Linked DNA regions of Homo sapiens: regions 1 and 2 are each linked to region 3. The links come from fine-mapping of genetic effects on gene expression. A gene starts in region 3. Each other region holds a variant in brackets. All regions are shown on one strand. Distances are from middle to middle. Region 1 overlaps MTMR12 (myotubularin related protein 12). Region 2 has its middle 43 kb from the start of GOLPH3. Region 3 holds the start of MTMR12 (myotubularin related protein 12).

Evidence for each region. PIP is the estimated chance that this variant, and not a neighbour inherited with it, causes the effect.
Region 1: its variant is fine-mapped to the expression of MTMR12 in whole blood (INTERVAL, PIP 0.93).
Region 2: its variant is fine-mapped to the expression of MTMR12 in follicular helper T cells (Schmiedel 2018, PIP 0.95).

What each region holds. Positions count from the first base shown.
Region 1 is chr5:32,276,563-32,284,745 of GRCh38, reverse strand. It overlaps MTMR12 (myotubularin related protein 12), which reads left to right. Exons shown (of 16, transcript NM_001040446.3): 2 at 8,004-8,064. Among named protein-coding and RNA genes, the nearest start is that of MTMR12, 32 kb to the left of the region's middle. RefSeq lists enhancers at 3,901-4,010, 4,031-4,080. The variant G/A (reference allele first, on the strand shown) is at 3,966.
Region 2 is chr5:32,213,524-32,221,706 of GRCh38, reverse strand. No RefSeq gene overlaps it. Among named protein-coding and RNA genes, the nearest start is that of GOLPH3, 43 kb to the right of the region's middle. The variant T/ATTTT (reference allele first, on the strand shown) is at 4,704.
Region 3 is chr5:32,308,470-32,316,652 of GRCh38, reverse strand. MTMR12 (myotubularin related protein 12) reads left to right here and starts at 3,714. Exons shown (of 16, transcript NM_001040446.3): 1 at 3,714-3,895. The coding sequence starts at 3,815. It also overlaps the pseudogene RNU6-378P. RefSeq lists an enhancer at 3,246-3,295 and silencers at 3,386-4,175, 4,246-4,385, 6,511-6,671.

The sequences.
Region 1 (8,183 bases), 32 kb after region 3:
GAATAAGTGAGGAATGTTACCTCGTGTTTCACAGCTGCAGAAGTAAGGTTGTCAACATCTACTAACTAGGTAGTTGGTAGGGAGTGTCAGAGTTAAAGGCGCAGAGGCTTAAGGGCAACTCTAGACCCTTCTGTAAAACTAGTTTATGGTTTAAGAAGCTCCCACCACCCCAAAGAATAGGGATAGTACACAGGCAGCTCTCACTGGATGCTGATTGAATTGGCTGTTAGATCCTGGGATGTGCTGGGCCTATCTACTGCTCTCTCTGAAAAGGCTTCACAAGTAATAGTCTTTCCATTAAGCTTTAGAGGAATCCTCCGTTTTTCAGTATATTGCAATATGAGTAGAGCATTTGGTGATGCCATCCATATTAGTGGCTAAGCCTAGCTATTGTTTCTTTTCTATTCTTTTTTTTTTTTTTTTTTTTTGAGACAGGGTCTTGTTCTGTCACCCAGGCTGGAGTACAGTGGTGCAATCATAGCTCACTGCAGCCTTGACCTCCCAGGCTGAGGTGATTCTCCCGCCCCAGCCTTCTGAGTAACTGGGACTACAGGCACATGCCACCATGCCTGGCTAATTAAAAAAAAAAAAAATTTTTTTTTGTGGAAATGGGGTTTGGCCATGTTGCCCAGGCTAGTCTCGAATTCTTAAGCTCAAGTGATCCGGTCCATCCACCTTGGCCTCCAACAGTGCTGTGATTACAGGCATAAGCCACCGCGCCTGGCCAAGATTATATACTCTTGAAAGGAAGCAAGAATTGCTCAGGCATACATACCAGTGTTATTCATGGTTAGAGCCTTTCCTGGAGTCCCATTGAACTCTTGAGTCAGTTGGCTTGAAAATTAGAGACTCATGCCTCAGAGGACCCAGTGGAGTGAGTCATAAGAGGTAACACTTTCAGTAGGTGTTGAGGAGCCTCAAGGTTCTTCTCCATGCAGCTGGCCAGTGTCACTTAGGTTGGGTGTAGGTGTCTTTTGTTGTTGTTTTCCCTTTAGCTTCCCTTGGCCTCTCTATAACTCTCATTCGAGGCTTTCCCTGGTCACTTTGTGTTGCTCGCTTTTACCTGGTTTCAGGTGGATCTAGCAGGTACTTCACTGATCATTCTGCCTTGTTTTTCCTTTTTCCTTTCATTCCTTCTTTCCACATGACAGTGTGGCATTGAATAAGAATGCAGACTGGGCCAGGAACGCAGACTGCGCACAGGGTTTGACTTTCACCTGTGCCACATACTAGCAGGGTGTCTTCATCTGTAAAATGGAGACAATCATGGGTATAATAACTCTATTGCAAAGGTTTGCTGTGAGGATTAAATGAGTTAATAAATAAATACAAAGCTTTTTAGACAGTAGCTGGCACTTAGAGCCCAAGAAATGTTTGTTATTATTCACTTCTCAACCTCAGTAAGGGCTGGCCCTGTACCCACTTTGGAAAAAGGAACAGTAGACTTTGGCGTTCACAGATTGGACATCTGTGATGTCTACAGTCCACAAGTGACTCTTGGTCACAGTGTAGTAATTTGTAATGCCACTAAGAAAGAGATTATATTTACTCATTCAATTGTAAAGTTTGGACAGCCTTTAATCACTCACCCAACAAATTTGCCAATGAAAACAACAGCTTATACACATTCAGAATACAGCATGGTTAGGAGTAGGATGCACATAGGGGAATTTCAGGGGAACCCACTCCAAGATCCACATGTAGGACTCAGCACATCCAGATACGGGTGCTCTCGTACCTTGTTGGTATCCACCTCTGCTCTCCTTCATTCAGCTATGTTCATTCTCCTGTGATCAACAAGCAAAGAATGGTAAATCCGTTTTCTCTTAAGAATATTGAAATATATTAGCTCCATATTTGTCAGTTCTTTCTTTGTTTTTCTTGTGGAGTTCAAAAAGCGATTGTGAAATATAGGGATGAAGAGACTACAGACATTGCCAGTGAATACTCTCCGTTCCGTCCTTCCTACCCACCCAAACAGGTAACTTGTGAAAATCAAATTCAAAGAAAAACTCCAATTAAACTTATTTTTGAGGCAAGGATTTCTTTATGATTCTTATTTGTATACCCTGATTTTTTGGAGTCCTCTAGGTTATTTCTCTTCTTGGGACTGGTTTGGATTTTTGTTTGAGGGGGGAAGCAGTTGATAGTGGTGATGATGGTTATTTGTTTTTTACCTGAGTTGATTATCTGTAAGACTTGCATAGTGTATATTTATAATTTTTTTGAAGTGTTAACCAGAAAGGATTAGATACTCATGATGATTTTTATTTTTTATTTTATTTATTTATTTATTTATTTATTTATTTATTTATTTATTTATTTTAGATGGAGTCTTGCTCTGTCGCCCAGGCTGGAGTGCAGTGGCACAATCTCGGCTCACTGTAAGCCCCGCCTCCCGGGCTCACGCCATTCTCCTGCCTCAGCCTCCAGAGTAGCTGGACTACAGGCACCCGCCACCACACCTGGCTAATTTTTGGTATTGTTAGTAGAGACGGGGTTTCACCAGCTAATTTTTTGTATTTTTAGTAGAGACGGGGTTTCACCATGTTAGCCAGGATGATCTCGATCTCCTGACCTCGTGATCCGTCCGCCTCGCCCTCCCAAAGTGCCAGGATTACAGGCATGAGCCACCGCACCCAGCCTGATGCTCGTGATGATTGAGTACAGTGTGGCACCTTAAATTCCAGTGCTCCAGTGGTTATATAGGTTTCTATTCTCAATTTGTTACCACCTTTTAGCAACTTGATCTACTGTCAACAAAATTAGTAGCTGAGAAAGCTTTTTTGTGTGTGCATGCCCAAGCAGGTCCTTCCTCTCGGATGTGGTCTCTTTTTTTTTTTTTTGAGACGGAGTCTCGCACTGTCTCCCAGGCTGGAGTGCAATGGTATGATCTCAGCTCACTGCAGCCTCCACCTCCCAGGTTCAAGTGACTCTCCTGCCTCAGCCTCCTGAGTAGCTGGGATTATAGGCATGCATCACCATGCCTGGCTAATTTTTATATTTTCAGTAGAGACGGGGTTTCAGCACGTTGGTCAGGCTGGTCTCGAACTCCTGACTTTGTGATCCACCCGCCCCAGCCTCCCAGAGTGCTGGGATTACAGGCATGAGCCACCACGCCCGGCCCAGATGTGGTTTCTTAAGAAAGCCATTGGTCTACTTTTTTGGTCTTGCAGAGGGTTCAAAGTGCTTTCTATTGCAAAAGATAAGATGCATAATGACCAGACATAAATCATGGTGTGCTGCTAGAAGATAAATCCTATTAATAGAAAAATGCTATTTCCTTTACCCTGGCTTCAGATATTCCTAATGTAGTTAAAGTCTTACAGATTTAGGGCCAACTTCAGTGTTGCTAATTTCAGGAATTCCTGATCCACAGAAAAAAGAATTGTGAGCCTGAGTAGAGTCAATTTAGTTTAATATGGGAAACAAGATTGGGAGAAAAGTAGAAGTTACTAGTCTCATGTAACAGTTTTTTTTGTTTTTTTTTTTTTTTTAATGATAGAGTCTCCTTCTGTTGCCCAGGCTGGAGTGCAGTGGCACGATCTCAGCTCACTGCAACCTCCACCTCCCGGGTTCAAGCTATTTTCGTGCCTCAGCCTCCCGAGTAGCTGGGATTACAGGCACATGCTGCCGCATCCTGCCAATTTTTGTATTTTCAGTAGAGACGTGGTTTTACCATGTTGGCCAGGCTGTTCTCAAACTCCTGGCCTCAAGTGATCCACCCACCTCAGCCTCCCAAAGTGCTGTGATTACTGGTGTGAGCCACCACACCCTGCCGAGAGATTCTTGAATAATTCCCCTACTCTTTGTTTACTCATGAAAGGAAATCAAGCAGAAGCACAGATCCTGCTACCCCCAACAACTATAACAAATTACATGACCAAGTACCTGTGTCACCGAAGTTATGTATGTATCTCTTAAAGCTCTCATACTAGGTAGTATTGTTTCCATTTTAGTATATC[G/A]GAGGAAACTGAAACTGACACTCAGTCAGTTTAAATGACAAGACCAAAGTCACATCTGTGGATGCCAGAGCCATATTTGGACTGTGGCCCCAGGTCGGTATTCTTTCTGTTTTTAGTACATGCACAGAGAAAATATTGGAGAAACATAGAGAAAGACAAAAACTTAAATTATTAGTACTATGCTGTATAAAAAATACAACTTTCTACTTAAAAAAATTTTGTTTTAAGATATACATGGATACCTACCTAATATGTAGATGCAAATTCATTTTTCTCCCTCAGATTTTCTACTTAGCTGGAAAAAAATGAGTATTAAGTGTTCATTCTAGAAAAGTAGGGCAGCTTTTAGGAAATGAAATGTCTGTGTTATGTCCTTTTAGCACTGTGTCAAATGCAATGGAAAGAAATTGTTTTGGAACCTTTAGAGATGTTGCTTCTTAGAGTTTGTCCCTCTGGCTGGATAAAATTAATCTGAGAACAACAATTTCAGTTTTTGATTTAAAGCTGATAGGAGCATTTATAAGCATTTTGACCTATGAGAGCTTCATTGTACCCCCACACACCCTAGTTCTTTTCAAGATCTTTCTGGCAGGGCCCTACCCTTTTTCTACCTCTCCTAAGGTGCCCCAGGATCATCACACATTTGAGATGATGTGCACTCTGAATGTGAACTTGGTAAGAGTCCAAAGAATTGACTTTTCAAGAACCAGTGAAGTAAATACCACCAGGCTGCCTCTCAGCAAGTCCTCAAGAGTGGTAGTTGACTTTAACATCCATGTGCTTTTGTCCTGTATGTCCCCAGCCCCTAGACTGCGGACTGGTACTAGTCTGTGCCAGCACTGCAGGAGTTGAATGTAGGAGTAGGGGGCAGCAAGGATTACCTCCTGAGTTCCACCTCCTGTGGGATCAGTGGCGGCATTAGATTCTTATAGGAGCATGAACCCTATTGTGAACTGCACATGCAAGAGATCCAGGTTGCACGCTCCCTATGAGAATCTAAGTAATGTCTAATGACCTGAGGTAGAACAGTTTCATCCCAAAATCATCCCCTGCCCCCCTGCCAGGTCCGTGGAAAAATTGTCTTCCGTGAAACCAACACCTAGCTCCAAAAGTTTGGGGAATGCTGCTGTGTGTGGCAGATCCTTGAATGTGAAGTAGTTCTCCTAACGGAATTTTTCTTATTTGTTCTGATCAGTTTTGTGGTAAGAGTTTCCTTTACAAGCAATGGATGCTACATTGATTTTCTCTTTTGCAATGGGAAACTGGAGACCATGTTTGTTAGAATTGGTACATAGCAGCGAAGAATGTAGGCTCTGAGTTCAATGGAGCTTGCAGATCCTTGGTTAGTAACTTTTTTTTTTGAGACACGGTTTTGCTCTGTTTCTCAGGCTGGAATGCAGTGGTGCAGTCATGGCTCACTGCAGCCTTGACCTCCTGGCCTCAAGTGATCTTTTCACCTCAGCCTCCCAGGTACCTGGGACTTCAGGTGTGTACTACCATACCTGGATGATTTTTTAATTTTTTTGTTTGTTTGTTTTGTAGAGATGAGTCTCACTCTGTTTCCTAAGCCCGTCTCAAATTCCTGGGCTCAAGCAGTCCTCCCACCTCGGCCTCCCAAAGTGTTGGGATTGTAGGTGTGAGTTGCTGTGCCCAGCCATAACTTACTTTTTTTTTTTTTTTTTTTTTTTTTTTTTTTTTTTTTTTGAGACAGAGTTTCGCTCTTGTTGCCCAGGCCGGAGTGCAAAGGCACAATCTCGGCTCACTGCAACCTCTGCCTCTCGGGTTCAAGTGATTCTCCTGCCTCAGCCTCCCGAGTAGCTGGGATTACAGGCATGCACCAACACCCCGGCTAATTTTGTATTTTTAGTAGAGACGGGGTTTCTCCATGTTGGTCAGGCTGGTCTGGAACTCCTGACCTCAGGTGATCCGTCCACCTCGGCCTCCCAAAGTGCTGGGATTACAGGCGTGAGCCACCACACCTGGCCAAGAATTTTTAAATTACCAAAACAGTCGTAGCTTTTAACATGCAGGAATAGTTCCTCTTGCTTAAGCCCCAGACCAGTACATCAGAATCATCTGGGGAGCTTTTTACAAAATCAGAGAGCCAGCCTGCATCCCTGCACTATAAGTCCGCAGGCTTATGGGTGCCAGAGAGTGTTTAGATAACAAGCTTCCCACGTGATCTGACCACACTGCCTCAGAGGGACTTGGTTTACTGGCATCTTAGTCACCTCCAATTTATACCATGCTCAAAAATGAGTTCTCAGGAAAAGCCCTAACATTCTTCTTCAGCCTCAAGATAGGCTGTACCCAAGTTTCTTCTAATGCCATATTTCAGTCTGAATTAACAAATTCAGAAAATTTCCCACCCAGGGCCTTCTACCAAAGAAAAAAAAAAATCTGATTTTATTTGTTGACAAAACTGGTTGTGTCTTGTAGAATTTTTCACAGTCAGAATTTGACTGATTATATCCCCACTGTATTATTTGACATGTTTCTCTGTCCCAGTGTTTCTGATACATTGGCTGATTGCTGTGGAAGTTCAAGGAGACTGAGGTTAGATATTTTGGCAAGAACACTTCCTGGATGGTGTGGCACACTTTATTAGGAGGCCCATGGTGCCTCTCTTTGTTATGTTAACAGCCATATATGATCATTGCTTTGGTCTATTCATTCATTCATGTTTGTAATTAATTATCTTTGAATATCCCATAAATACTGAGCCCCAAGTAGAGGCATTTGAATATATTTTTACTGAGAAGCAGTGACCCAGAAACTGGCCTTGATTCTCTGTTAGAAATGACTGTATCCCTTGGCACTGTCTTGTGGTTTTAGGTAACTTTGAATGGACAAAGAATGTCCCAGCTCTCTTTACTGAGCCCTGGTGTGCTGTAGATTAGCTGGATCAATACTGACTTGATACATTCATGTTTTCCTATTCTTACCTTTGGGCCTTATTTATGTGTCCATATTCTTTCAAGAACACATCATCTTTTGCTTTCAACCCTTGATCCTCACTGGAAGGAGAGGGGATCATGCTGTGGCGTGTTGTCTCTTTTCTTTCTTTCTTTTTCTTTTTTTTTTGAGACAGAGTCCCACTGTTACCCAGGCTGGAGTGCAGTGGCATAATCTCGGCTCACTGCAGCCTCTGCCTCCCGAATTAAAGTGTTTCTCCTGCCCTAGCCTCCCAAGTAGCTGGGATTACAGGCACTCACTACCATGCCTGGCTAATTTTTGTATTTTTAGTAGAGACGGGGTTTTGCCATGTTGGCCAGGCTGGTTTCGAACTCCTGACCTCAAGTTATCTGCCCATCTCGGCCACCCAAAGTGCTGGAATTACAGGTGTGAGCCACCACGCTGGGCCATCTCTTTTATTTCAGATTCTGTGTTTGAGCAGCCTTGCTTTGCTATGTGACACTTCAAGTTGTTCCTTAGATAAGGAGAGATAAGGAGTGCCCACCTCACCCCCTCTACTTGGGACAGCTACTAGTTATCAGTCCTAAATAATTAGTTTAATACATTAAATATCCATAACTTGGAGTTTTCTGTCTTCCTTTAGTTAGAACACTTCCTGTTTTTAAAAAGTATCTAGCTTGGGCCAGGCATGGTGGCTCACGCCTGTAATCCCAGCACTTTGGGAGGCTGACGCGGGCAGATCACAAGGTCAAGAGATCAAGACTATCCTGACCAACAAGGTGAAACCCCATCTCTACTAAAAATACAAACAATTAGCTGGGCGTGGTGGCACACGCCTGTAGTCCCAGCTACTTGGGAGGCTGAGACAGGAGAATCACTTGAACCTGGGAGGCAGAGGTTGCAGTGAGCTGAGATCGTGCCACTGCACTCCAGCCTGGCAACAGAGTGAGACTCCATCTCAAAAAAAAAAAAAAAAAAAAAAAAAAAAAAAGTAGCTTGTAACATAAACGAAAAGCTCCTGAGGGTATGTGATATTTTAGTGTGTATTCTGAAAGCATGGCTTAATGTTATTCATTTTAAACCCTTAAACAAAGAAAAATATCCTTTGCTCTTCTCTTTTAGGAAATTCACACAAACGAAAAGGAAGTAACAGAGAAGGAAGTAACTCTTCACTTGTTGCCAGGTAACTGTCATGTTAGCATAGTAACTCCTATGCAAGGCAAAGCCAATGATAAATTACATCATCCCTAGCCTTGCTATATTTAAACTCCTTTGTTTTCATCTTCTCACATATAACAGTAA
Region 2 (8,183 bases), 95 kb after region 3:
CCTACCAGATTTACTGGAAATTCTATCATAATTACATTATAGTTGATTTACTGGATATTCATGGTTATATCTGGGGGCCTCCTTGCTCATTCCTTAGAGCTGTGCGGGAGCCCAGGGCATATGAATTCTGCTGGTGGCCTTCTGTCCACCATGGCTGCTGCCTAGGAGCTCTTTGCCTGAGGTCTATATGTGTTAGTTTGGATTCCCCCAGAAGCAGGCTCTGGATCAAGGATTTGGGTGCAAGTGGTTTATCTGGGCAGTGTTCCCAGGTACCACTGTGAAATGATGGGGAACGGAGAAAGGGAAAACAAAGAATAACAGATACAGTAAGGAACGAGTGATTACTGTGGGCAACTGGGGCCAGCCCCCTGGGGACTCCCGAGAGACCATGTGGAGCATGTTTGGAATAGTCCCACAGAAGAGTGAGGAAGCTGGGGTACTGACAACAACTCCTCTCCCCACTAGTTGAGGGCGGGTTGCTCCTGGGAATCTGTTGGTGTGTGCAGGGACTGCCAGAGATGTGGGCAAGGGACCGCCTACTGCAGTCCATAGGGTCTGCTGGGAGATGGACAGCCTTCCTGCCACAGCAGTTTGGGGACAGCATCTCTGACAAAGCCGCCAAGCCAGGCACCTGGCTGGCTTGGTCTAGCCTAGCCAAGCACACTGTGTAACAATCCCCCACCCAGGGGCCAGGCCTCTGCAACATGCAGTAATGCCCAAATATTTAGCTGCTCATTCAAGGGGGTGGTACATCAAAATAAGAAAACAGCCAGGCGCGGTGGCTCACAACTGTAATCCCAGCACTTTGGGAGGCTGAGGCAGGCAGATCACCTGAGGACAGGAGTTTGAGACCAACCTGGCCAACATGGTGAAACCCTGTATCCACAAAAAATACAAAAATTAGCCGGGCATGGTGGTGGGTACCTATAATCCTAGCTACTTGGGAGGCTGAGACAGGAGAATCGCTTGAATCTGGGAGGCGGAGGTTGCAGTGAGCTAAGATCGTGCCACTGCACTCCAGCCTGGGCAATGAGCTGTCAAAAAAAAAAAAATTCCGTCTCAAAACAAAAAAAAAAATAGTATCATGGCTAGTTCAGGGCCTTGTATTTTTAAAGCAATTGTGTCAACAGGCTATCATTTTTTCAGTCAAGGCAGAATTTTTAAATGTGGGGCTGATAATTTTCGGTTTCCACAAATTCTAAGTAATAGTCTCCCTCTTCTTCTCTGAGGCAGCTACAGTTTCTTACCTGTTTATTTTGAAAGGGATTACAGTGGCTCATGCCTGTAATCCCAGCACTTTGGGAGGCCAAGGCAGGTGGATCACTTGAGGTTGGCAGTTTGAGACCAACCTGGCCAACATGGCAAAACCCCACCTCTACTAAAAAATACAGGTCGTACACAGTGGCTCACGCCTGTAATCCCAGCACTTTGGGAGGCCTAGGCGGGCGGATCACGAGGTCAGGAGATCGAGACCATCCTGCCTAATACGGTGAAACCCCGTCGCTACTAAAAAATACAAAAAAATTAGCCGGGTGTGGTGGCAGCCGCCTGTAGTCCCAGCTGAGGCTGAGGCAGGAGAATGGTGGCAGAGCTTGCAGTGAGCCGAGATTGCATCACTGCACTCCAGCCTGGGCGACAGAGTGAGACTTGTCTCAAAAAATAAAAAATAAAAAAAAATTAGGGGCCGCGCGCAATGGCTCTCGTCTGTAATCCCAGCACCTTGGGAGGCTGAGGCGGGTGGATAACCTGAAGTCAGGAGTTTGAGATCAGCCTGGCCAACATGGTGAAACCCCGTCTCTACTAAAAATATAAAAAGATTAGCCGGGCGTGGTGGTGGGTGTCTTTAATCCCAGCTACTCCGGAGGCTGAAGCAGGAGAATTGCTTGAACCCAGGAGACGGAGGTTGCAGTGAGCCAATATGGTGCCACTGCACTCCAGCCTGGGTGACAGAGTGAGACTCTGTCTCAAAAAAAAAAAAAAAAAATTAGCCAGGCGTGGTGGTGCGTGCCTTCCTGCAGTCCCAGCTACTCAGTTGCAGTGAGCCAGGATTGCACCACTGCACTCCAGCCTGGGCAACACAGCGAGACTCCACTTCCAAAAAAAAAAAATATATATATATATATATATATTAGATTCCCAACATTTAACCATTTTGAACCAATACGACACTGCCAACATTTGACCACTCTTTACTACAAAAATGACATTTTCATGTGGTTCAAATTAAACATATGAATTTGAGGTGGGACTGGGATATTGTTTACACCACATCTCTTTATCTTGCTTTTCTCAGTCTGCATTGTCTCATGGAAATTGCTCTGAATTGAGGTGGAGTTCTAATACATTTATTTATTTATTTATTTATTTTTATTTTTATTTATTTTTTTGCTCTGGCACCCAGGCTGGATTGCAGTGGTACAATCAGGGCTCACTGCAGCCTCAACTTCCCAGGCTCCAGCGATCCTCCTACCTCAGCCTCCTGAATAGCTGGGACTACAGGCGCGCACCAGCACGCCTGGCTCGTTTTAGTATTTTTGGTAGAGACAGGGTTTCACCATGTTGCCCAGGCTGGTCTTGAACTCCTGAGGTCAAGCAATAGCCCCCTCCTCGGCCTCCCAAAGGGCTGGGATCACAGGCGTGAGCCCCCGCGCCCAGCCTCTAGTGCATTTTTCCATAGCTTCTCAAAGGGCACGTGCAGGGAATTGTGACAGTCTTGTCTCAAGCCCATTCCTCACTAATGCTTTCAGCTCCCTCCTACCTCAACAGAAACTGCCTGATTTCTCCCCAGTCCTGCCTGTGCCTCCCCTTTACGAAGGGGAATAATTTTTAGATTCGCAAAGCCTGGGGGCCATGTCTAAATTGCCCTTCCTATTTCTACCAGGGAATCGAGTTTCATCCTGTCTTGGGGCTTCTGGGTATGGGGCTGATTTTCCAGAACTCTTGAAGATTTGACCCACACCGCCCCTTGCCTCACAGGAAATGGCAAAACTAACTAGATGATTATGTGATTCAATCCTTAATGTGGAGTTTTTATAAAATTAAAAAAAAAAAACCCACACAGTGCCTTGAATATACAGAGCACCTCTCCATTCATCTCAGTTCAAGAAGTCCTGCCAAGCCTTTGAAGTACAGTAACATTCTCAAATGTGCACCCCCCGCCCAAAATCGTTCACACTGCAGAACACTATTCAGGAAAGAAATGTTTCGTGATTTTTTTAAAAAAAATGAGTGAAAAGCCAAGAAATTAAACAGCCTCTGTTTATGGCAGGTGGTAAGAAAAATGTAACGTAACACATACCCTTCCCTGCCTTTTGCATAACCAGTTTGATGCATAGTTCTACTGTGCGAGCAGATTCAAAACTTGCTGGTTTTCTTCGTAATAACATAGCACATGCCAGGGAATAAGGGCTCAGTGTGTTCTAGGCACAAGGAGAACTTATTCTGGACTGACTCAAGCAGAAAGAAGCCAAATTGTCAAGACAAAGAGCAGCTTAGACGCGTGAATTCCAGCGCGACAGCCATGGCTGCTCTGTTCAGAGATGTAGTTCTGTGGTTAGGCCCCAACGGCTCGCCTTTTTGGGTATTCCTCTACTTAAATCAGGTGGTTGAAGGTATTCGTGGCTCTCAGAAAGGACAGGCTGGGGAGAGAGAAGTTGTCCCGCAGCTGCAAGTTTCTTTGAGGCCTCTCTTTCCATTTTGGCTGCTGGCCAAATACTCATTTTAACTAGGGACCTACTGTAGGACACAGAAGTGATTGCCCCGGCGTGGTAGCCCTGCTGTCTACTTTTCACTCAGTAAATACATGCTGAAGAAGCTAATTCAGGAGGTTGAATTTAAACCATTAGGTTCGAGATTTGTTATATTATTATAAAAAATCATCTTTAATATTTGTGGATAGAGCCATCACCAGAGATAAAAAGGGCAGTTTGGGCTGGGCATGGTGGCTCATGCCTGTAATTCCAGCACTTTGAGAGGCCGAGTGGGGAGGATTGACGAAGGCCAGGAGTTCGAGACCAGCCTAGGCAACATAGCGGGACCCCCATCGCTACAAAAACAAAAACAAAATTAGCTGGGTGTGGTGGTGCAGGCCTGTAGTCCCAGCTACTCCGGGAACTGTGAGGTGGGAGGACTGCTTGAGTCCAGGAGATCGAGGCTGCAGTGCACAGAGATCGCACCACTGCACTCCAGCCTGGGGGACAAAGCAAAACCCTGTCTCCCAAAATAAAAACCAATAAAAAATAGATAAAAGGGCAGTTTTATTAATAAAGAGGATAGGAAAGAAACTCCTCCCGAGCCCTGCGGATCTAACCGAGCACTGTCAAGGGAGGCTGTGTCTCCTGCTCCTCTCTCCGCACCAGTCCAGGCTCCATGGCCCCATGGCCCACCATTCTCCCGCAGTCCCACCTGTTCCGGGGGAAGTCTCGGCCTCCTTCTCCCCACACCCAGGCCCTATACCTGTGCCCCCCACCCTCCCAATCCCCCCCTCCATTATCCCTCAGGAACCTTTTGCTTTCTATTATGTTCTGTCTCCCAGTCCTTTGGTCTCTACAGACCCCGCCCGTTCAATGTGCCCTGGTCTAGCCTATCTCAAAACAAAATGAATGCCTGGATCCTACCTTCCTCTTCAAGCTACACTCCCCACCCCTATTCCCTGTCTTTATCAGCCTGACAGACTTATTATTTATTTATTTATTTATTTATTT[T/ATTTT]AAGAATAATCTAGCCAGATGCAGTGCCTCATGCCTGTAATCCCAGCACTTTGGGAGGCTGAGGCTGGTGGATCACTTGAGGTCCGGAGTTCGAGACCAGCCTGGCCAACATGGTGAAACCCTGTCTCCACTAAAAATACAAAATTAGCCAGGTTTAGTGGTGCATGCCTGTAATCTCAGCTACGTGGGAGGCTGAGGCAGGAGAATTGCTTGAACCTAGTGGGTGGAGGTTACAGTGAGCCAAGATTGCGTCACTGCACTCAAGCCTGGGCAATGAGAGTGAAACTCCATCTCAAAAAATAATAATAATAATATTTTTATGTGTTTATTTTTAGAGATGGGGTCTTGCTATGTTGCCCAGGCTGTACTTGAACTCTTGGGCTCAAGGGATCTTCCCAGCCTCCTGAGTAGGTGGGACTACAGACACGCACCATTGCGCCTGGCCAGCCAAACTCCTTAAAGCAGTGGTCCCCAACCTTTCTGGCACCACAGACTGATTTCTCAGAAGACAATATTTCCACAGACCAAGGAGGAGCAGGGGTTGGGTTGGATGGTTTCAGGATGAAACTGTTCCACCTCAGATCATCAGAGAATCATTAGTTAAGATTCTCATAAGGAGCGTGCAACCTAGATCCCTCGCATGCACAGTTGACAATAGGGTTCCCGCTCCTAAGAGAATCTAATGCTGCTGCTGATCCGACAGGAGGCGGAGCTCAGGCAGTAATGCTCCATCACCCTCCCCTCACCTCCTGCTGTGCAGCCCAGTCCCTAATAGGCCACGGGCTGGGGGTGCCTTAAACAGTCACCTTCATTTGGGTTTTCACTGCCCCATGTCACACTCACTTGTCAGTCCACTCCAGGCCACCAAACCCAAAGGACAGTGTTCAGGACAAGTTCTCAGCTTTTCTGTCAATTAGAACTGAGTGTGACAAACCAGGAAGAAGAGAATAGACACGGGAAGGCTCCTGTCAACGTCTGTCAGACCCAGCTTGGCTCCCTCTGTGGCCAGCTCTGTGGGCCACTGCCTTCTTGAACGCCTCTCTTCTCCTGATCTCCATGATCTTGTACTTCCTGGTTTCCTTTCCGTCCCTTTGGCTGCTCCTTCTCGGCCTCCCTGGGAGAATGGTCTTTCTCCTGCCCTCCGTCGGTCTCTGTTCACTCTTTATTTATTTTTTTTTTTTTGAGACAGAGTTTCGCTCTTGTTGCCCAGGCTGTAGTGCAGTGGTGCCATCTCAGGTCACCGCAACCTTTGCCCCCCAGGTTCAAGTGATTCTCTTGCCTCAGCCTCCCAAGTAGCTGGGATTACAGGGATGCGCCACCACACCCAGCTAATTTTGTATTTTTAGTAGAGACAGGGTTTCTCCATGTTGGTCAGGCTGGTCTTGAACTCCCCCCAACCTCAGGTGATCCACCTGCCTCAGCCTCCCAAAGTGCTGGGATTACAGGCGTGAGCCACCCCGCCTGGCTGTGTTCACTCTTAACCCTCTTCCTGGGGGAGGTGGCCTTCATTACCTCGTGTGCACAAATGACCTCTAAATTCTTACCTCCTGCCTATACACAGATGACCAACAAATCTCATCTCCTGCTTCGACCCATATCACAAGACTCAAATGTCTAAAAGCACTGCAAACTCAACACATCCAAAATTAAACTCATTTTATTCTCTCCAAACTGGCTTCTCCTTCAGAACTCTGTGTCTTATAAAATGTGTGTGCCGTTTGCTCAGTTGTCTAAACTAGAGATCTGGGAACTATTCTAGATGTCTTGTTTCCCCTCACTCCCTAGCCCTAATTGACCCCCAAGGTCCACTGAGTCCACCTGCTGCCTGTCTTGAGTCCTTCCACTTCTCTCCATCCCACTGTCACCACCCTGCGCCCTGCCGTCCTGTGCTGTCACCTGGACTCCTCTATCAACTTCTCTGATTGCATCCTTCCTGTTTCTCTCCAATCTGAGCCCCACTTTGCAGCCAGAATCTTTCTAAAATGCCAACCAGATCATGCCACTTACATACAATTCTTTAAGGCCTCTAGTTGCCCTTAGGATAAATGTGACTCCTCAGCCCCTCAGGTCCCAGCCTAATAGGACCCTTCATCACTAGGCCCCTGCCTGCTTCCACATAAGAAAAGCAATGATTAGAAAAAGCTTGAGAAAGGAACCCAAGGATAGAAGCTATGGTGCATTGTTCAGCATCAGTTTTCAGGGAAGTGAAGGGGGTCTCATGGTAAAGCAATGTAATCAGACCTTGGCTTTGACCTTGTACTTTATCTCAACTTTTATATTAACATAATACTAGTTTTATTATAAATATTGTATCTAGTTTATTGCAGCACTATTTATAATAGCAAAGACTTAGAACTAACCCAAATGCCTATCATGATAGACTGGATAAAGAAAATGTGGCACATATACACCATGGAATACTATGCAGCCATGAAAAAGAATGAGATCATCTCCTTTGCAGAGACTTGGATAAAGCTGGAAACCATAATTCTCAAAAAACTAACACAGGAACAGAAAACCAAATACCATGTCATGTTCTCACTCATAAGTGGGAGTTGAACAATGAGAACACATGGACACAGGGAGGGGAACATCATACACTGGGGCCTGTTGGAGGTTGGGGGCAACGGGAGGAAGAGCATTAGGACAAATACCTAATACATGCGGGGCTTAAAACCTAGATGATGGGTTGTTAGGTGCAGCAAACCACCATGGCACATGTGTACCTATGTAACAAACCTGCACATTCTGCACATATATCCCAGAACTTAAAGTAAAATAATAACAATAATAAACAAACAAAAGATTTGGGAACCAAAGAACTAACTGTTGGGACCTTCAAGATGCAGACATTTAATTTTATATGTGTCAATGAAGCATGCATGAAAAAGACAAAGATGAAACAGTGTGTAGTATTAGGAAAAATTGTCAATATGACCCAGGAAAATTCACAAAAAGAAAAGAGAGAAACTGATTATTTGGTTTGTACTGAAGTGGACTAATTATGGGTTATTTATATAAACTGCCAGTCATGTCTAGTTACCCCATGGCAAAACAATGATTATCATTAAACATTAAACCATTAAAAATAAATAAATAAATATTTTATCTATTGAGTACCCCTATTTTATTTATTTGTTTATTTATTCATTTTAAGAGATAGGGTCTTGTCATGTTGGCCAGGGTGGATTCAAAATCCTGGGCTCAAGCAATCCTCCCACCTTGGCCTCCTGAGTAGCTAGGACTATAGGTATAGTCTAGCTATGCACCTGGCCAGCAAAACTTATATTGATGTCGTTTCTCTTGCAGTAAGTATCAAGAGGGGAATTTGAAATACCCATTTTTTGACTAGATATTACATATAATTACTTGAGTATTTTAAAAAGCAGTCCATGAAAGGTGCATAGTACAATGTTGGTCATAGGGAGTGCTTAGTAAACGTTGACTTTTTTTTCTAAAAACTATTTTTATTTCTAGAAC
Region 3 (8,183 bases):
CCCCCGTTCTTTTTTTTTTTTTTTTTTTTTTTTTTGAGACAGGGTCTTGCTCTGTCACCCAGGCTGGAGTGAGTGGCATAATCATGGGTCACTGCTGCCTCCAGGGCTCAAGTGATCCTCCCACCTCAGCCATCCAAGTAGCTGAGATTGGGACTACAGGTGCACACCACCATGCCAGGCTAATTCTTTGTATTTTTTGTAGAGACTGAGTCTCCCTATGTTGCCCGGTCTGGCTTCAAACTCCTGGACTCAAGTGATCTGCCTGCTTTGACCTCCCAAAGTGCTGAGATTACAGGTGTAATCCCACTGCACCCGGCCTCCAAGCCTTCTTAAGTATGAGATTCTGTGTGACTGCACTAGTTTCATGTCCAAAGAAGCCAGCCTTGGACATAGTCACATTTACTAACAACTATGGTGAAAGGTCATGGAAATTCAAAATACTTTGAAAAGTAAGAAAGGAAACATTTTCTCAGTGTCTAAAAATCTGCCCTGCCATTCTACTTCGAAAAGTGAAGACTGCTGCAAAATATAATGATATTAGTCTTGACAAAGAAAAGTATTCTTTAACACTCCCATGAAGAATATCTTTTTTTATGAAGCCTTACTTTGTAACTATAATAGGTTTGTTGCCCAATGCACTGGACAAGTCAATACACCAAGGCACCAGGTTACAGCAGTGAAAGAGGTTTAATTGTAGGGCTGCTGGATGAGGAGACAGGAGGAAACCTCAAATTCATCTCCCTGAGGAGTCAAGGAGTTTGGGGCTAGGGTTTTTTTGCGGGGGGATGGTTTTTGAGACAGGATTTTGCTTTGTCACCTAGGCTGGAGTGCAGTGACCTATCAGTTCACTGTAACCTCAAACTCCTGGGCTCAAACAATCTTTCCACCTCAACCTCCTGAGTACCTTGTACTACAGGCTTGCACCACCATGCCTGACTAATTTTTTAATGTTTCATAGAGACAGGGCCTCACTATATTGTCTGGGCTGGTCTTGAACTCCTGAACTCAAGTGAGCCTCCTACTTTGGCCTTTAAAAGTGCTGGGATTACAGGTGTGAGCTACTGCACCCTGCCTGGGGCTAGGGTATTTAAGGGTTTTGAAGTGGACCAAAGTGTGGAGATCATCAATTGGTTGAAAAGTGCAGGGTAAAGTCATGAGACAGAGAGATGAAGAAATTGTATTCTCGCACTGATTCGGTTCCTGTGTGTGTGTGGGTGTGTGTGTGTGTGTGTGTGTGTGTGTGTTGGGGCGGGGGCGGTCTTTAAACTGGTTGATGTCGGCTGTTCTGCTGGAACGTAGGATCTGCCTAAGCAATTCTTAAATAAAACCCTTATGATTCCAGAGCCAGAAATCCTACCTATTGAAACAACAGGGATGCAAATGGTCAGTACCTAGTGTTACCTGAAGTTATTAATACAAAGAAGCAGGCCGAACTGCAGCCTGATTAATGCTTAGTTATAACTCTATTTTTGTGCAGAATTCTTCTCAACCTTGTAAGGATGGCCTCAACTTGGACTCCCCAAATAGAATTGACCACACTTTCATTGTGCTCCTTTCTAATTTGTATAATTATAATGTTAAGAACTTGGGATTTCGAATGAGACAAACCCGGGTTGAAATCCCAGCTCTCTCAGTGACTAGTTGTGAGACCTGGGCAAATTACTTGCATCTCTGTTTTGTCACCTGGAAACTGGGATAAGGAAACTCAGAGGCGGCTGCAGCACAGCTATACCAAATATTGGCTTACAGGTGGCAATCTAGCTGGAAACGGAGCTGCAGGACTTGCGTTGAAACTATGTTTGCAAAAGCAAGCACATTTGTTTTCACTAAGATTTTATATTTACTTGGAGTGTATTTGGGAAGGGGGAGCACATGGAGATTAAGAGGGTAAAAATCAAGGTCACCAATGAGAGTACTTAGCACAGTGCCTGACGCCTAAAAAATTAACTGCAAATATTTATGTTTTTTTCCACTAGATTGAATTTCTTAAGAGCTGGATTCTATCTTATTTATCTGCAACTAACAACGCTTGGCACCAAATGTAGAACTGAAATGAATTTTCTTTGCAATCTTGACTAAAAAATGAGGGTTTTATCAATAACTTCGTAGAGTAAATAGAAGTCTCTTAAGGGCTCTTGATATTCTTCCTGTTGGAAACACAAAGAAGGGAAAGGTTTGGAAAAATGAAGTTGACAAAGTCTTTTATTATCAAACGCTCAAACTTATTCCTCACTGCCTTGTTAACACTTGATTTGACACTTTTTTTTTTCTGTTTGAGACACAGTCTTGCTCTGCCACCCAGGCTGGAGTGCAGTGGCGCGATCCTGGCTCACTGCAACCTTGGTTCAAGCGATTCTCGTGCCTCAGCCTCCCGAGTAGCTGGGATTACAGGCGCCCGCCACCACACCAGGCTAATTTTTGTATTTTTAGTAGAGATAGGGTTTCTCCATGTTGGCCAGGCTGGTCTCAAACTCCTGACTTCAGATGATCCACCCGCCTCGGCCTCCCAAAGTGCTGGGATTAGAGGCGTGAGTCATCGTTTGTCTCATTTTTGTTTACATTTAAAATAATAAACCTTGAGGTCGGGCGCGGTGGCTCACGCCTGTAATCCCAGCACTTCGGGAGGCCGAAGCGGGTGGATCATCTGAAGTCAGGAGTTTGAGACCAGCCTGGCCAACATGGTGAAACCCCCGTCTCCATTAAAAATACAAAAATTAGCGGCATGGCGCGGTGGCTCATGCCTCTAATCCCAACACTTTGGGAGGCTGAGGCGGGCGGATCACGAGGTTAGGGGTTTGAGACTAGCCTGGCCAACATGGTGAAACCCCGTCTCTACTAAAAATACAAAAATTAGCCGGGTGTGATGGCAGGCGCCTATAATCCCAGCTACTCGGGAGGCTGAGGCAGGAGAATCGCTTGAACCTGGGAGGCAGAGGTTGCAGTGAGCCTATACTACGCCATTGCACTCAAGCCTGGGCGACAGAACGACACACACACACACACACACACACACACACAAAATTAGCTGGATATAGTGGCGGGCGCCTGTAATCCCAGCTACTCAGGAGGCTGAGGCAAGAGAATCGCTTGAACCTGGGAGACGGAGGTTGCAATGAGCAGAGATCGCGCCATTGCACTCCAGCCTGGGCGACAAGAGCAAAACTCCGTCTCAAAAGTAAATAATAATAAAATAAAAAACCTTGAACGTCATCGCTGTAAGTTGGGAACTCCTATAGCAAGATTCCATACATCCCATTTTTGGACGTTTTATTCCAAAGACACAAGCAAACGGAAGAAAACGACTGCCGTGAACCCCTGCTAACGACAACTTGGTGACTGCAGGATCATTGGACGACGGTTTTATCCTCGCCATCCAATCGTTGGAAAGTCCGGAGAGAACGCTCTCTGGATTGGTTGGAGGAAACATCTCTCCAAGTGCACTCAAGAATGGGTTGGGAGCGGGGTTCGGCCGGCAGCGCCTCGGGCCAATCAGAGAAAGCATGAGGGCGGGCTCTGCCGCAGGAAGGTGGTGAATCTCGGCGGGTCAAACTCTCCTGACGTGATGGGGGGGCGTGGCCTCCAGTTGCGGTCTCCCGGCTCTCTGGGCCCGCGCACGGGATGGGCGGGGCCCACGGGCCTGGGCGGGGCGAGCGGTGTCAGCGGCGGAGCCGGATGCGGGCGGCATCGCGGCGGTCGCGGCCTTGGGGATGGGCGGAGCCCCAGCCGCTAGTGCTGGTGGCCGCCGCTGCTGCCCCAGCTGGAGCCCGAGCCGCCGCCTCTGCGTCCGCGCGTCGCTGCTTCCCAGGGCGGCGGTATGCTGGGGAAAGGAGTAGTCGGCGGTGGCGGCGGCACCAAGGCCCCCAAGCCCTCCTTCGTGTCGTACGTACGCCCTGAGGTGAGGGGGCGCCGCGCAGGCGGGGCGTCGGGCAGGGGCGGCCGGGGCGAGGGGCGCCGGGAGCCCCTTCCTTGCAGCGGGGAGCGCCGCGGAGCGCTTCCTGCCCTTGTGCCGGGCGACGGGGCAGCCAGGCGGGCTGAGGCCGCAGGAGCGCGCTGGGGCCTCCGCGCGGGCCGGAATGGGGACCCCGGCGCAGGCAGGCAGGTGCCTGAGCGCAGGGCCCGAGCGCTGGAGGCTGGTGGAGGGGCCCGAGCCGAGAAGGGATTGCGGCCCGGAACGCCCCTGGGGATTCTGGAGAGGACCTGGGGTTGTGGGCACTGCTGGGAGGGGTAGGGCCGTGGGTCGGAGCCCCCAACGGGGCCTGCTCGGAGCCCGCGTGGGTCCGTCCTGCCTCTGGACTTTCTCAGTGAGCCCAGAAGCCCGCCGGCCTCCGCTGCCTGCGTCTGAGTGCCTCGGGTGCGGCTGGCGGGATGCCCTGCACCTACGTCCGCCTCCCGTCAGCGCTGCGGGGAGAAAAGGGGGTCGGCCTGGCCTCAGCCAGTCTCTGCTTGTCTCTCCCTTGGGAATTCTCCGCTGTCGCTTCTTTCTCCTCATCCCCTCACCATCATCCTTTCCACCCACTTCTTACTCTTCTGAATCTTCAGGTCAAGAAATTTGTTCATTCATTCAGAAAATACTTCTCGAGCTCCTACTGTGTGTCAGGCACTAAGTGCTTGTGATAGACATCAGTGAACAGGACAGAGATCTCTGCATTCCTGGAGCTTATTTGAGGGGGAAAGGAGAAACGGGGTGAATTATAGATAATTAAGTAAATTATACGGTGTAGTAGGAGGTGATAAATATCATGGGAAAGAAAAGAAATCTTTTTCCTCCTCGCAAAGGTGGCATTTGAGCCGAGACTTGAAGATACGAGAGGTCTGAGAGAAGAGTCGTCCAGGTAGAGGGAACAGCCCCCGGGAAGGTCGTGAGGTGGGAGTGTGTCTGAAGGGTTGGCGGAGCGTCAAGGAAGCCAGCATGGCAGAGGCCCATGGACAAGGGGGACAGTCATAGGAGAGGAGGTTAGAGAGATCAGAACTTGTAGGCCTTGCTCAGGGCTTCTTGAGCAATAGTTCTTAATCCAAATGCCTAATGAGAAGCCTTCTTGTTTTGCATCTGTAAAGGTTTTTTTCTGCCCTTCTCTCCAGCAGAAGTGCAGAAGCACCGCCAAATTTGTTGCAGATGTCTTCCCACCTCTGTAATGCAGAAGCACGTGGGCTGTGGATGAGAGATCTGATCAGGGACTGCTTCCGTAAAGACCACCTGGGGCCTGAGGCATTTGCATATGTATCTTTAAATTCAAGATATGTGTGTTTTCTCCAGGGGAAAGTGCTCTTAAAATGGGTCTTATTTTTAGTCCTAGTTGTAAAATACAAACCATTTCCTCTGTTAGCACTTGATGTGGAGTCAGGGTCATCTTAAAGTTTCAGCGGGCTTCCCTTGTGGTATCACATTTAAGCAATGTGGTCAATTTCTCTTTGTGTCTTTTTAAAACATTTAAACATTTAAAAAATTTTTGTGGGTATAGTAGGTGTATATATTTAATGGGATACATGAAATATTTGGGCTGGGCATGGTGGCTGACACCTGTAATCCCAGCACTTTGGGCCGGCTGAGGTGGGTGGATCACCTGAGGTCAGAAGTTGGAGACCAGCCTGGCCAACATGGTGAAACCCTAAAATTAGCCAGGCATGGTGGTGCGCACCTGTAATCCCAGCTACTTGGGAGGCTGAGGCAGGAGAATCGCTTGAACCCAGGAGGCAGAGGTTGCAGTGAGCCGAGATCGCGCCACTGCACTACAGCTTGGGCGACAGAGCGAGACTCCATCTCAAAAAAAAAAAAAAGAAAGAAATCTTTGGATACAGGCATACAATGCATGAATGGGGTATCCATCACTGCAAGCATTTATCCTTCCTTTGTGTTACACACTATCCAATTATACTCTTTAAGTTATTATAAAATATACAATTATTGTTGACTGTAGTCACCCTGTTGTGCTATCACTTACTAGATCTTATTCTAACTGTGTTTTTGTACCCATTAAACATCCCCACTTCCCTTTCCCCTGCTACCCTTCCCAGCTTTTGGTAACCATCATTCTGTCTCCATGAGTTCAAATGTTTTAATTTTTAGCTCCCACAAATAAGTGAGGACGTGCAAAGTTTGTCTTTCTGCGCCTGGCGTAGTTCACTTAACATAATGACCTCCAGTTCTGTTCATTGTTACAAATGACAGGATCTTATTCTTTTTTATGGCTGAATAGTACTCGTGTGTATGTACCACATTTTCTTTATCTATTCATTTGTTGATGATGGACACTTTGGTTGCTTCCAAATCTTGGCTGTGGTGAATAGTGTTGTAATAAACATGGGAGTGCAGATTTCTCTTCCATGTACTGATTTCCTTTCTTCCTTTTTTAGAGACAGGATCTTGCTTTGTCGCTTAGGTTGAAGTACAGTGGCGTGATCACAGCTCACTGTAGCCTCCACCTCCTGTACTCAAGCCATTTTCCCAAGTAGCTGGGACTACAGGTGCATGCCAGAGCACCTGGCTAATTTTAAAATTTTTAGTAGAGGTGATGTCTTGCTGTCTTTGCCCAGGCTGCTCTCAAACTCCTGGGCTCAAGCAATCCTCCTGCCTCAGCCTCCCAAAGTGCTGGGATTGTAGGCGTAAGCCACCGTGCCTGGCCCTGATTTCCTTTCTTTTGGGTGTATACCTAGCAGTGGGCTTGCCGGATCATATGGTGGCTCTATTTTTAGTTTTTGAGGAACCTCCGTACTGTTCTCCACAGTGGTTGTATTGATTTACGTTCCCACCAACAGCGTATGAAGGTTCCCTTCTCTCCACATCCTTACTAGCATTTGTTATTGCTTATCTTTTTTGGATATAAGCCATTTTAACTGGGATGAGATGATATCTCATACTTTTTTTTTTTAACATTTAAGGGTTTGTTAAAAATATGAAACGCTTCACGAATTTGCATGTCATCCTTGCGCAGGGGCCATGCTAATCTTCTCTGTGTCCTTCCAATTTTAGTATATGTGATGCTGAAGCGAGCACTCATTGTAGTTTTGATTTGTATTTCTCTGGTGATCAATGATGTTAAGCACGTTTTCATGTACCTTTTTTTGCCATTTGTATATCTTCTTTTGAGAAATGTCTTTCAGATCTTGTCTCCATTTTTAGGTGGATTATTAGATTTTTTCCTATTGAGTTGTTTGAGCTTCTTACATATTCTTGTTATCCCCTGTCAGATAGATGGTTTGTAAATATTTTCTCTCATTCAGTGGGTTATCTCTTCATTTTGTTGATAGTTTCCTTTGCTGTGAGGAAGCTTTTTAACTTGATGTGATCCCATTTGTCCATTTTTGCTTTGGTTGCCTATGCTTGTCGGGTATTCTTTATGTCTTTTTTTGATAGAACCCTGGTTGAAGTGCAACTGATCTTTAAACTTTTCTCTTCAGGGAAATTAAACTACAAGTGGAAAGTCTTCTGAAATGTGGCCAGAGTTCAAGAATGTTCAAATTCTTCGTCCACCAAGTGCACATGTTGTAATTAGACATGTTTCCCTCTTTGCCCACAGTGCCTGATGTATTTCCTTTGAGGGATAATTAGGGAAGGGGAGTGGTTCAGTCTAAAATAAGCCTGAAGTGGTCACATTTTTCAGATCCTTATAGTTGGCAGCTTTGTTTTCTTGCATTAAAATAATGCTGTGCAGACACTATGCCTCGTTGTTGTAGTCTGACTCTAAACATGTTTTGTAACAGAGGATAAGGCTCTGTCCTAAATTGTGGATGGTTTTTTAAAAGATAAGGGTAAGGCCGGGCGTGGTGGCTCACGCCTGTAATCCCAGCACTTTGGGAGGCCGAGGTGGGTGGATCATGAGGCCAAGAGATCCAGACTATCCTGGCCAACATGGTGAAACCCCGTCTCTACTAAAAATACAAAAATTACCTGGGCGTGGTGGTGTGTGCCTGTAGTTAGTCCCAGTTACTCGGGAGGCTCAGGCAGGAGAATCCCTTGAACCCAGGAGGCAGAGGTTGCAGTGAGCCAAGATCACGCCACTGCATTTCAGCCTGGCGACAGAGTGAGACTCCATCTCAAAAAAAAAAAGAAGATAAAGGTAGGAAGGGGTGAGAAGGCAATGTATTTTTAAGTATATAGGTTTTGCCAGGTAATCATATTACGGGAAATGCAGGTGAGCAACATCGAGGCATGGCTTATGTGCTTCTGAGAGCCCTGGGTCTGGTAA